Homo sapiens: one gene and its partners. The protein of the gene in region 1 purifies or fractionates together with the protein of each later gene. This does not show direct contact. Each region holds a gene or a part of one and is shown in the gene's direction. Other genes may lie near its edges.

Region 1 (3,596 bases):
TAGCTCACGTGGCTGCCTTTGGCCTACTTGGTCATCAGTTTTCCTGGCAGTTAACAGAAACAATCATCTTGCCTCAGAGAATTGTAATGCAGGTGGCTTGAGTTACCAGATGAAGCTCTTGTCAGTGGAAAGCATGTACAAATGTTGTTACTATTGCCATTAATTTTGAGAATGACACATGCTTTTGTGATTATAACACCAAGAACATGTTCTTTATACAAAGTTTGGAAAATACAAGGAAAATATAACCCCATGATCCAGCAATAACTTCCATTAGTGTTTTTGGTATATTTTCTTCTACCATACCTCTCTATATTTTTAACTCCAAATTTACAATTGTGGCTGGGCAGGTGCAGTGGCTCACACCTGCAATCCCAGCACTTTGGGAGGACAAAGCAGGAGGATTGACTGAGTCCAGGAGTTGAGACCAGTCTGGGAAACATAGTGAGAATCCGTCTTTACAAAAAATAAGAAATTAGCCAGGCATAGTGGTGTGCACCTATAGAGCCAAAGAGGCTGAGGCAGAAGGATCACTTGAGCCCAGCAGTTCAAGGTTAGAGTAAGCCTTGATCATGCCACTGCAATCCAGCCTGGGTGAAAGAGAGACCCTGTCTCAAGAAAAATAATAATAAAAATAGGCCGGGTGCAGTGGCTCATTCCTGTAATCCCAGCACTTTGGGAGGCCAACGTGGGCGGATCACTTGAGCTCAGGAGTTCAAGACCAGCCTGGCCAACATGGTGAAACCCTGTCTCTACTAAAAATACAAAAATTAGCTGCGCGTGGTGGCAAGTCCCTGTAATCCCAGCTACTCGGGAGGCTGAGGTAGCAGAATTGCTTGAACCCAGGAGGCAGAGGTTGCAATGAGCTGAGCACTCCAGCCTAGGCAACAGAGCAAGACTCCCTCTCAAAAAATAATAATAATAAAACTGTGTCCTGGTTTTAAAAAATAATTTACATATAATTAGATGCACACATTTTAAGTTTGATCTCAATCAAAATACAGAACATTTCTAGAAAGTTTCTTCATACCTTCGTGTAGTCAGTTTCCCCTACTCTTGACCTCAAGTAATCACAGACCTGATTTCTACATCCTAATGTTATTAATTTCATAGTGTAGGCATTTCTACAGTATCACAAGAATATACCATATTTATCTATTTTGTCCTCTATATAGTTGTTTTTATAATGGTTATATAATATTTAGAATAAAATGATTTTAAATTATTTCTAAACATTCAAAAGAAAGACCTGAAGTGAAGGAAAAGACCCTAGAATCAAATGCTTTTCTGAGATTAACCTTCTTCCCTTTTGATGGAGCTGAGAGTCCTAATATTTAATATTTATACTATTATAAATAATGCTGCTATTAATGTCTATGTACAGAAATCTTTGTGTACATTTCAGACTATTTTCCTAGGAGACAGTCCTAGAAGTAGAATTAGTGAGTCAAAGGATGGGATATTTTTGAGGCTTTTGTTACATAAATCACTCCCAAGAAAATTGTTTCAGTTTACTCCCACCTCAGCAGTGTACTTGAATGCCCCTTTCACTCCCCTCTGCCAACACTGGGCATTTTTTCAAATTTTGCCATTGTGATAAGTGAAAAATAATATCCTTTTTAAATCTTGATTGTACTACTTTATTATCAGCATAGTTTAGGCCAGTATGTTAGATAAAGTTTGCGCTTGACAGACTAGCTTAGCACCCCTAAGCAAATTATGGGTACATGGATTTATACAAGGAACTTGATTTCAAAGTTCTGATGTGGAAGCACTGAATTTCCATTGTTAAATCTCAGCACTAAATAAATAAATAATTCTCAGCACTATCTGATACTCACAGGCCCGAATAATCAAGATATCAGTCTCCACTTACCTACTTTGAAATTAAAAGTAGGTATTTGTCCACTAGATACTTACTTTCATTCAGCCAGGAGGCCCAGTATAGTATTTTGGCTTACTGGTGATAAATAAGCTTTTGCAGCCTTGTTTTCCACCTTCTAGAACTCTCCTACTCAAGATGTGATCCACATTAGTATCACCTGGGAGCTTGCTAAACAAGTGGGGCCTCACCTCAGACCTACTGCATTAAAATCTATTTTTAGCAAGATCCCCAGGTGATTTGTAAGCATATTACAGTTTAAGGCTGGGCACAGTGGCTCACGCCTGTAATCCCAACACTTTGGGAGGCTGGGGTGGGTGGATCACCTGAGGTCAGGAGTTTGAGACCAGCCTGGCAAACATGGTGAAACCCCATCTCTACTAAAAATACAAAAATTAGCAGGGCGTGGTGGCATGTGCCTATAATCCCAGCTACTCAGGAGGCTGAAGCAGGAGAATTGCTTGAACCCAGGAGGTGGAGGTTGCAGTGAGCTGAGATCCCGCCATTGCACTTCAGCCAGCCTGGGCAACAAGAACAAAACTCTGCCTCAGAAAAAAAAAAAAAAAAAAAAAAAAGTTTAAGTATAGAAGATTGGCATCATTACAACCGGAGTTCCTCTTCTTTTACCTCCTTATTATTGCAGGTAATGGTAGTATATTGGGGAAGCTAGGTATAAGTGTCTTAGCCACAAATTCAGTTTCTACAAGTATTAATTGAGTTATTACTGTGTGCCTGACACCATTCTAGATGTTTTCACATACTACGTAGGGAGTGAAGGATGTACAAAACAAACTAAAATGGAGAATACGGTGTGAGACCCAATATCTATTGACTGCCTATGCTAAGTGAGGGTAGGTGTCTCATTGAATCCTCATAACAGGGCTAAGGGGCAGGGTTATTAGCTCTAATGAAAGTCAGAAAAATGAACCAACATGTGCAATATTTTTTTTTTTGAGACGGAGTCTCACTCTGTTGCCCAGGCTGGAGTGCAGTGGCACAATCTGTGCTCACTGCTACCTCCATCCCATCTCCTGGGTTCAAGCGATTCTCTGCCTCAGCCTCTCGAGCAGCTGGAATTACAGGTGCCCACCACCACACCCAGCTAATTGTCGTATTTTTAGGAGAGACGGGGTTTCACCATCTTGGCCAGGCTGGTCCTGAACTCCTGACCTTGTGATCCACCCGCCTCAGCCTCCCAAAGTGCTGGGATTACAGGCGTGAGCCACCGTGCCTGGCCCACGTGCAATATTAAGTGGCTGAATTTTAACTCATATCTGTTGCCAAACCCTGTATTCTTGCCACCATATCTCCTATCTCCAAGTAAGGCAATGGAGTGTGAAGTTGGGTGCCATGGGGCCCCCAGTTCTCAAGATGTCCATCTGAATACTTATATTCTGCTCAAAGACTAGCAGCTTGGAATCCTTTTCACCCCTGGCTACTGTGCCCTTTGTAGATGATCTTCTGCACAAAAACCAACAGCTGACCATGCAGGTGGCTTGCCTGAACCAGGAGCTTGCCCAGCTGAAAAAGCTGGAGAAGACAGTTGCCATTCTCCATGAAAGTCAGAGGTAGGAGAGGGTCTATCTAGCTTGCTTCTAGAAGCAGATATTTACTCCTTTTATCTCCTTTGTTTTGCTTGGAAAGTTAATATCTATGCACTTTGCAAGTGAACTCCATTCTGTGTGTAAACCTCCTGTATCTGGCCAGTTAGCTC
Region 2 (3,651 bases), on another chromosome or scaffold:
ATTTGAAGTCAGATGGACTTAATTTGAGGGAAATCTTGAGGTTGTCATTTCAGGTGGGCTCTGTGTTGAGAGAACAGGGGGCTGAGACTTGGGGGCCAGACCATTGGTGGCTCCACAGACATCATACTCTGTCCAGAACGGTGCAGACCTGGCATAACAGGGATTCTGGATTGCATCTGTAAAAAGGGAGGCCTGGACTGGGTAAGCATATGGCCTGGGATGGAGGCTGAAGTGTGAGGTGGTTTCGATCCTGCACCTGCAGGCTTGGTTGACCCTCAGGGCCACTCTCTGTTGAACAAGAGAAATGTTATTGAGGCTGGTGGAGTAGCTGGGTTCCAGATCAGAGCACTGCTTTTTCCCCTTCTCTACATGTCAGGGCTACAGGGGATGATCTACTGCTCCAGCCAAGGTCTCCTGGCAAGCTCACTTTAGAAGATTATGTAGCAGGTAGACCTGGTTGCAGAAAGGACCAGTACCTGACCTGCCTACTCTTCCCTTCTCTATAACTCATTAACTTAATAATGTATGAAACACTTATTGATTTAAACCCCAATTAGACAGTATCTTTCTAAGTGTGTGCAAACAGATAGGCAGTTAATAGTGAAGTCATTATGTTAAATTTCTAAAAGTGAGCCGGGTGTGGTGGCTCACACCTGTAATCCCAGCACTTTGGGAGGCCGAGGTGGGTGGATCACCTGTGGTCGGGAGTTCGAGACCAGCCTGACCAACATGGAGAAACCCTGTCTCTACTAAAAATACAAAATTAGCCGGGTGTGGTGGCGCATGCCTGTAATCCCAGCTTCTCAGGAGGCTGAGGCAGGCGAATTGCTTGAAAACAGGAGGCGGAGGTTGCAGTGAGCCAAGACCACGCCATTGCACTCCAGCCTGGGCAAGAAGAGCAAAACTCTGTCTCACAATAGAGGAGAGGAGAGGGGAGGGGAGGGGAGGGCAGAGGAGGGGAGGGGGGAGGGCAGGGGAGGGGAGGGGAGAAAGTGGTTCATAATTGGTTTGATGTTAATTTATCTCGTTTGCTTTCCTTGGAAAAAGTTAATATCGCATCCTCTAAAATCTTAAGCTAAAAACATACATGAAAATTTCAAAACCCCACTCTTTCATTTGCATTGAACTCATGTACAAAACCATTAATCTTGGACCATAGCCGCTGATATATATAGTACATGCTACTGATGTTTGATACTAATATGAGCCCTGTGAGGGGGCAGCTATTCTTGCAATCTATTTACAGATGGAGACACTGAAGCTCAGGTGGGTTTGGTTCTTTTCCATGGTCACAGAGCTGCAGCACTGAGGCCTGAGGAACTTTATTCAATGAATTGAGATCAGTTTGCTCCCAGGCAGGGCAGACGAGGTGGTGGTCCATCTCAGCCTGAAGGATCCTTCCATGGCTGTCAATTTCTCACGGCCTTTCTCTTCCCTCAGGGTCCCCTGGCGATGGCAGAAATGGACCCTACACAGGTGAGTAGAGTGTTTCCTACTATTCACCCACCCTGGTTATCTCCCAGATGGTTTTGGCAGGTGACAAAACCTCTTTTCCTGTCTTTCTCTTATGTCTGAAGGGTGAGTGGTTTCACCAGTTAGTTTCAGTATTACAAGTTGGCTGCTGGGTTACATAGACTGGTCCCCGTTTTTGAGAATTGATCTGATAAGATATGTTTGGGCCTCTTGGGCACAGGATTCAGAATGTTTCAATGTTTGGAGGAGAGACTGAGCTAGGTTTTTAGGGAACTGCAAATGTCTGTTACATCTGGTAGGAATACGGAGCAGAATGGGAGGTGGCTAGAGGCACACAAACATCAGGCCTGGAATGACAGCCTAGGTCCTGGGTCTGTAATCTAAGGGAAGTGGGAGACGGGGAAGATTTGAAGCAAAATAGGTAGTGATAGGACCCCAGTTTAAGAGACTTTCTTTGGCTTCTGAGTGGAGGACAGACTGTGGAGGTGAGGGTAATGGAAGGGAGATCTGAGAGGATGTTCCTGCAGCAGTCTAGGTGGATGTTGGTGGTGGCTTGTCAAGAGTGGTCATAGCTTCAGTTTTAACTAGAGCTGCCCACATTTTATGATACAGAGAGTGAGGCAGCTGGGGAGGTGGGATAGAAGGGGAATCAGGAGTGGCCCCATGGTTTTTGTTTGGAAGCATAGATGCTCCATCAGCTAAGATGGGAGAAGTCAGCAGTATTAGGAATTTTCAGAGTGAGTGTGAGGAGTCAGTGTTTGTTCAAGCCACAGATGTCTCAGAGACTCCTGATGGAGGAGTTCAGGTTGGAGATGTCCACACTATGGTGGCTGTCGTATGGACCAGGATGAAGCCATGGATTCAGTTTAGGTGACAGCATCTCTAGGTTATGGTGGCAGTGCTGTTCGAAGACAGAGAATTGGAATGGGGCATGAGAACTGGGTCTCTTACTGGGTAGCTGTGCAGTGGTGGAGGAGTCACTAGACAAATGAGGGAATGGAGTGTTTGTGGGGATGAGTGTATGTGAGATGGTGGGGTATAGGAGTGAGAAAGACTTCTGAAGGAGAGTGGACATGATGGGGTTGCTGAGGGGGGATAATAGGGTGAGGTCGGAGAGTTGCTAACTATCAGTTGGGAGGAGGTGAGGATGGGAGTTGTATTAATCCGTTTCCATACTGCTGTAAAGAACTACCTGAGACTGGGTAATTTATGAAGAAAAGAGGTTTAACCAACTCACAGTTCTTCAGGCTTAACAGGAAGCATAACTGGGAGGCCTCAGGAAACACAATCCTGGCGGAAGGTGAAGGGGAAGCGAGGCACATCTTCCCATGATGGAGCAGGAGAGAGGGAGAGAATGAAGGGGGAAGAGCCAAACACTTTTAAACAACCAGATCTCGTGAGAACTTACTATTATGAGAAAGGCAAGGGGAAAATATGCCCTCATGATCCAGTCACATCCCACCAGGTCCCTCCCCTGACACGTGGGGATTACAATTTGACATGAGATTTGGGTGGGGACACAGAGCCAAACCATATCAGGAGTGGAAATATGGAGGTCAGTGCAGCTGGGCTTGGAATGAGGTTTTGGTGGAGAGCAATTTTCCTGACTGTTTATGGGACAGAGTGTACCATGAGGCAGGACACAGCTGAGAGTATGGGAAGTCCTCACATGGTTTGGGCAGCTGACAGTGAAGTGAGAAACAGGGCCGTGTAGGGAACCTTCAACCCAGGGCTTAGGGCTGCCCCCGGTGCTAGGGGACTTTGGTGTTCTGGGGCAGGACTGGGAATGAATTGGATGCTGAGCGTATTTGCCGTGCACCACCTGGTTTCCGTGTGCAGAGTGGCCTGTTAGGAGGTGAAGGAAATGCCTGTGGTGTGGGCTGGGAGTTGTCTGTGGAATTGACTGGAGTGGAGGTGTGAGAGATGGGATTGGAGTGCTGTCCAAAGAGTGATGTGCAGGCAGGAGGAGTGTGAATGGAGGGCCTCAGGCCCTGGCCCTGGTAGCTCAAGGGAGGAGGATGAGTCTGAGTTTGGTTGTCTTGGGAGGCAAGATCTGGGTGACTCCATGGCAACTGGCTGGCAGGAGAGGATGGATCCCCCCACGGGAGGCCCACATTCCTTTTCTACCTTATCTTCCATCTGTTTCCTCTGTGTGCTGGACACGGTGGCCAATGTCAA
Region 3 (3,651 bases), on another chromosome or scaffold:
TGTTTCTTGTACGTATGCAAATTGGGAACCAAATGCTAATTTTGTAATTGATACTTGAAATCTGACAAGTTTCATAATACATTTTGTCTCTCTCTCCTGTCAGGTATCATGATATTAGCTGGTTTGACATCAAGTCATTTGTGAGTCATCAGATCTTCTCCTGAAAATGGGAGACACAGTAGGGCCCCTCCCAGGAGCTCTTGGCTGTTGCTGATGGCAGAAGCCAAGCTTGTCCAAGGTTCACTTGTAGCCCCTCAGCGTCAGCTCAGCTGGTGTCGTCCTGACCATGGACGGCGCGTCGGCCGAGCAAGATGGCCTCCAGGAGGACAGATCCCACAGTGGCCCCTCGTCTCTCCCCGAGGCCCCACTGAAGCCCCCGGGCCCACTGGTGCCACCTGACCAGCAGGACAAAGTCCAGTGTAAGTCGTGAGGTTCCTCTGTGTGCTGGTCACAGGAGGACCTGGTGTTGAGGGAGGACGTGGTGTTGAGGGAGGATGTGGCGTTGAGACCACTGTGAGCTTTTCACTTAATTCAAAGTTGTTTTTTTTTTTTTTTTTTTTTGAGACGGAGTCTCGCTCTTTCGCCCAGGCTGGACTGCAGTGGCGTGATCTCGGCTCGCTGCAAGCTCCGCCTCCCGGGTTCATGCCATTCTCTTGCCCCAGCCTCCTGAGTAGCTGGGATTACAGGCGCCCGCCACCGCGCCCGGCTAATTTTTTGTATTTTTAGTAGAGACGGGGTTTCACCGTGTTAGCCAAGATGGTCTCGATCTCCTGACTTCGTGATCCGCCCGCCTCAGCCTCAGCCTCAAAGTGCTGGGATTACAGGTGTGAGCCACTGTGCCCGGCCCAAAGTATGTTTTAGTAACTGAATGATGCCACCTTTAGATCAGGCACATTCCTGCTAAACAGAACTCCATTAAACGTGTGGGGCAGCAGCAGTGTTTCCCTGAAGGGATCTATGGGTCTTTATCATGTTCCCTGCCTAAAATTCTACCTTTTTTTTTTTTCGACGTGGAGTTTTGCTCTGGGTGCCCGGGCTGGAGTGCAATGGCGAGATCTCGTTTCACTGCAACCTCCACTTCCCGGGTTCAAGCAATTCTTCTGCCTCAGCCTCCCGAGTAGCTGGGATTACAGGCATGCGCTACCACGCCCAGCTATTTTTTGTATTTTTAGTAGAGATGAGGTTTCTCCATGTTGGTCAGGCTGGCCACGAACTCCCAACCTCAGGTGATCCGCCCACCTTGGCATCCCAAAGTGCTGAGATTACAGGCGTGAGCCACTGCGCCCAGCCATTTTTTTTTTTTTTTTTTTTTTTTGAGACGGTGTCCTGTTCTGTCGCCCAGGCTGGAGTGCAGTGGCACCATCTCAGCTCACTGCAACCTCTGCCTCCTGGGTTCAAGCGATTCTCCTGCTTCAGCCTCCCGAGTAGCTGGGACTACAGGCACCTGCCACCACACCCAGCTATTTTTTGTATTTTTAGTAGAGACGGGGTTTCACCATGTTGGCCAGGCTGGTCTCGAACTCCTGATCTCAAATGATCCACCCACCTCAGCCCCAAAAAGTGCTGGGATTACAGGAGTGAGCCACTGTGCCTGGCCGAATTCTGCCTTTTTGATTGGTCAGTTGCTGAATTTGTAATAGCTAGAATTCAGAAGTCGTCCCGTAGAGATCTAAGGATTACGGAGCACAGTGTTATGTTAGCCCCCTGGGTTATTCACGTGTCAGAGGGAAAGGGTGACTTAGTTATTCACTCAGTTCTCATGCCTCTTCCTGGCCAGGAGGTTCAGTGCTTTAAAACTGTAGACTACAGATGTGCTAATTTACTAGCAGAAGTCACAGTCTAATTCCTGTAAAATGATACTCAGGCGCTTAGGATGGCTTTGCTGGTCCTTGCTACATAAGCATCAGGTGAGGCAGATAACAACTTAGAGGCCCAAGATCAAGAGTTCTGAGACCCGCGGCCGTGGAACCTGCTCTTAGATCTGCTGCTCAGGAGCAATGTGCCCTCGAGCAAGACGCTGGGTTAATCTCAGCCTCCGCCCCTTTTTCTATTTTAAACATTTTATTACTGTTTTTAGAGTCAGGGTGTTGCTCCATTGAGCAGGCTGAAGTGCAGTGGTGTAATCATAGCTCACGGCAGCCATGAACTCCTGGGCTTAAGTGATCCTCCTGCCTTGGTCTCTGGGGTAGCGGTGACTATCGATGCGTGTCAGCACGCCTAGCTGATTTTTTTTTTTTTGAGACGGAGTTTTGCTGTTGTTGTCCAGGCTGTAGTGCAATGGTGCGATCTCGGCTCATGGCAACCTCCGCCTCCCGGGTTCAAGCGATCTTCTGCCTCAGCCTCCTGAGTAGCTGGGATTACAGGCATGTGCCACCACGCCCAGCTAATTTTGTATTTTTAGTAGAGATGGAGTTTCCATGTTGATCAGGCTGGTTTTGAACTCCCAATCTCTGGTGATCCCCCCACCTTGGCCTCCCAAAGTGCTGGGATTGCAGGCGTGAGCCACCGCGCCCTGTTGCCTGGCTCATTTTAAAAACTTTTTGTATAAACAGTCTTGCTGTTGCCCGGGCTGGTCTTGAATTCCTGGCCTTGAGTTATCCTTCCACCTCGGCCTCCCAAAGTGCTGGGATTACAGGTGTGAGCCACTGCGCCCGGCCTAACCCAGTAACTTTTATCTGAAATGCAAGGTTCCCCCTCTCCCAGCAGTGGAGCTCACGGGTCCTTTGCATGAAAGGCGTCTCAGTGCGTTGGTCGGGTGCCCGTGGTCTGGCTTCCTGTCTGGCACCCCTGCTTTTATTCTGGTTTTTCTTTCGGGAGGCATGACAGTAAGTATCTGCTGTTAGTTTGAACTCACATTTGCAAGTGAAAGAAACCTTTTCTTTTTTTGAGACGGAGTCTCGCTCTGTTGCCCAGACTGGAGTGCAGTGGCACGACCTCAGCTTACTGCAAGCTCCACTTCGAGGGTTCACGCCATTCTTCTGCCTCAGCCTCCCAAGTAGCTGGGACTATAGGCGCCCGCCACCACGCCCAGCTAAGTCTTTGTATTTTTAGTAGAGACGGGGTTTCGCCGTGTTAGCCAGGATAGTCTCGATCTCCTGACCTCGTGATCCACCTGCCTCAGCTTCCCAAAGTGCTGGGATTACAGGCGTGAGCCACCGCGCCCGGCTAAGAAACTCATTTTTAATTTGCTTGAGCAAAAAGCAAATTTGCTGTCCTGCATGCACGTGGGATCCGAGGAATGCTGACCCCTGTGAGACACGGAGGTGTTGCCGGGCCTCCAGAGCCACCGGAACCAGGACCAGAACCCCCTGAGGACCCTCCCTCCCCCCTCACATGTCTTGGTTCTTTGACTGTGAACTGGCCCACCCACCAGTCAGCAGTTAGGGGGCAGGGAAAAGACTGAAAATCACTTCATTGAAAGAAATCTTTCTTTGTTCCATTTGATGAGGAAATATGTTTTAGTTTGTGTTGTGGGTAATTTGTATATAATCATTTTAGTGGGTGAACTGAGGTAACACGTGGGTATAGAATTGTCACTGGTCCAACCCAGGCCTTTACCCAGCAGGCTGTCATCAAGCAGAAGCGCGGTTCTGGGCTGTCTCTGCTTCACGGGTGGTGTGATGACATCATCCACCTCTTCGCCTTAGGGTC

What was found.
Region 2: the proteins of LRRC36 (region 1) and ZNF548 purify together in Homo sapiens (affinity purification with mass spectrometry; one large-scale study listed by BioGRID and IntAct). This does not show direct contact.
Region 3: the proteins of LRRC36 (region 1) and GOLGA3 purify together in Homo sapiens (affinity purification with mass spectrometry; one large-scale study listed by BioGRID and IntAct). This does not show direct contact.

The regions. Positions count from the first base shown.
Region 1 is NC_000016.10:67,378,798-67,382,393, forward strand, and holds part of LRRC36 (leucine-rich repeat-containing protein 36), read left to right. Parts: intron 1-2,629; coding exon of another isoform or gene 2,630-2,697; exon of another isoform or gene 2,698-2,733; intron 2,734-3,335; coding exon 3,336-3,450; intron 3,451-3,596.
Region 2 is NC_000019.10:57,392,748-57,396,398, forward strand, and holds part of ZNF548 (zinc finger protein 548), read left to right. Parts: intron 1-1,440; coding exon 1,441-1,476; intron 1,477-3,651. UniProt on the Homo sapiens protein: May be involved in transcriptional regulation.
Region 3 is NC_000012.12:132,818,764-132,822,414, reverse strand, and holds part of GOLGA3 (golgin subfamily A member 3), read left to right. Parts: intron 1-103; 5' UTR 104-286; coding exon 287-419; intron 420-3,651. UniProt on the Homo sapiens protein: Golgi auto-antigen; probably involved in maintaining Golgi structure.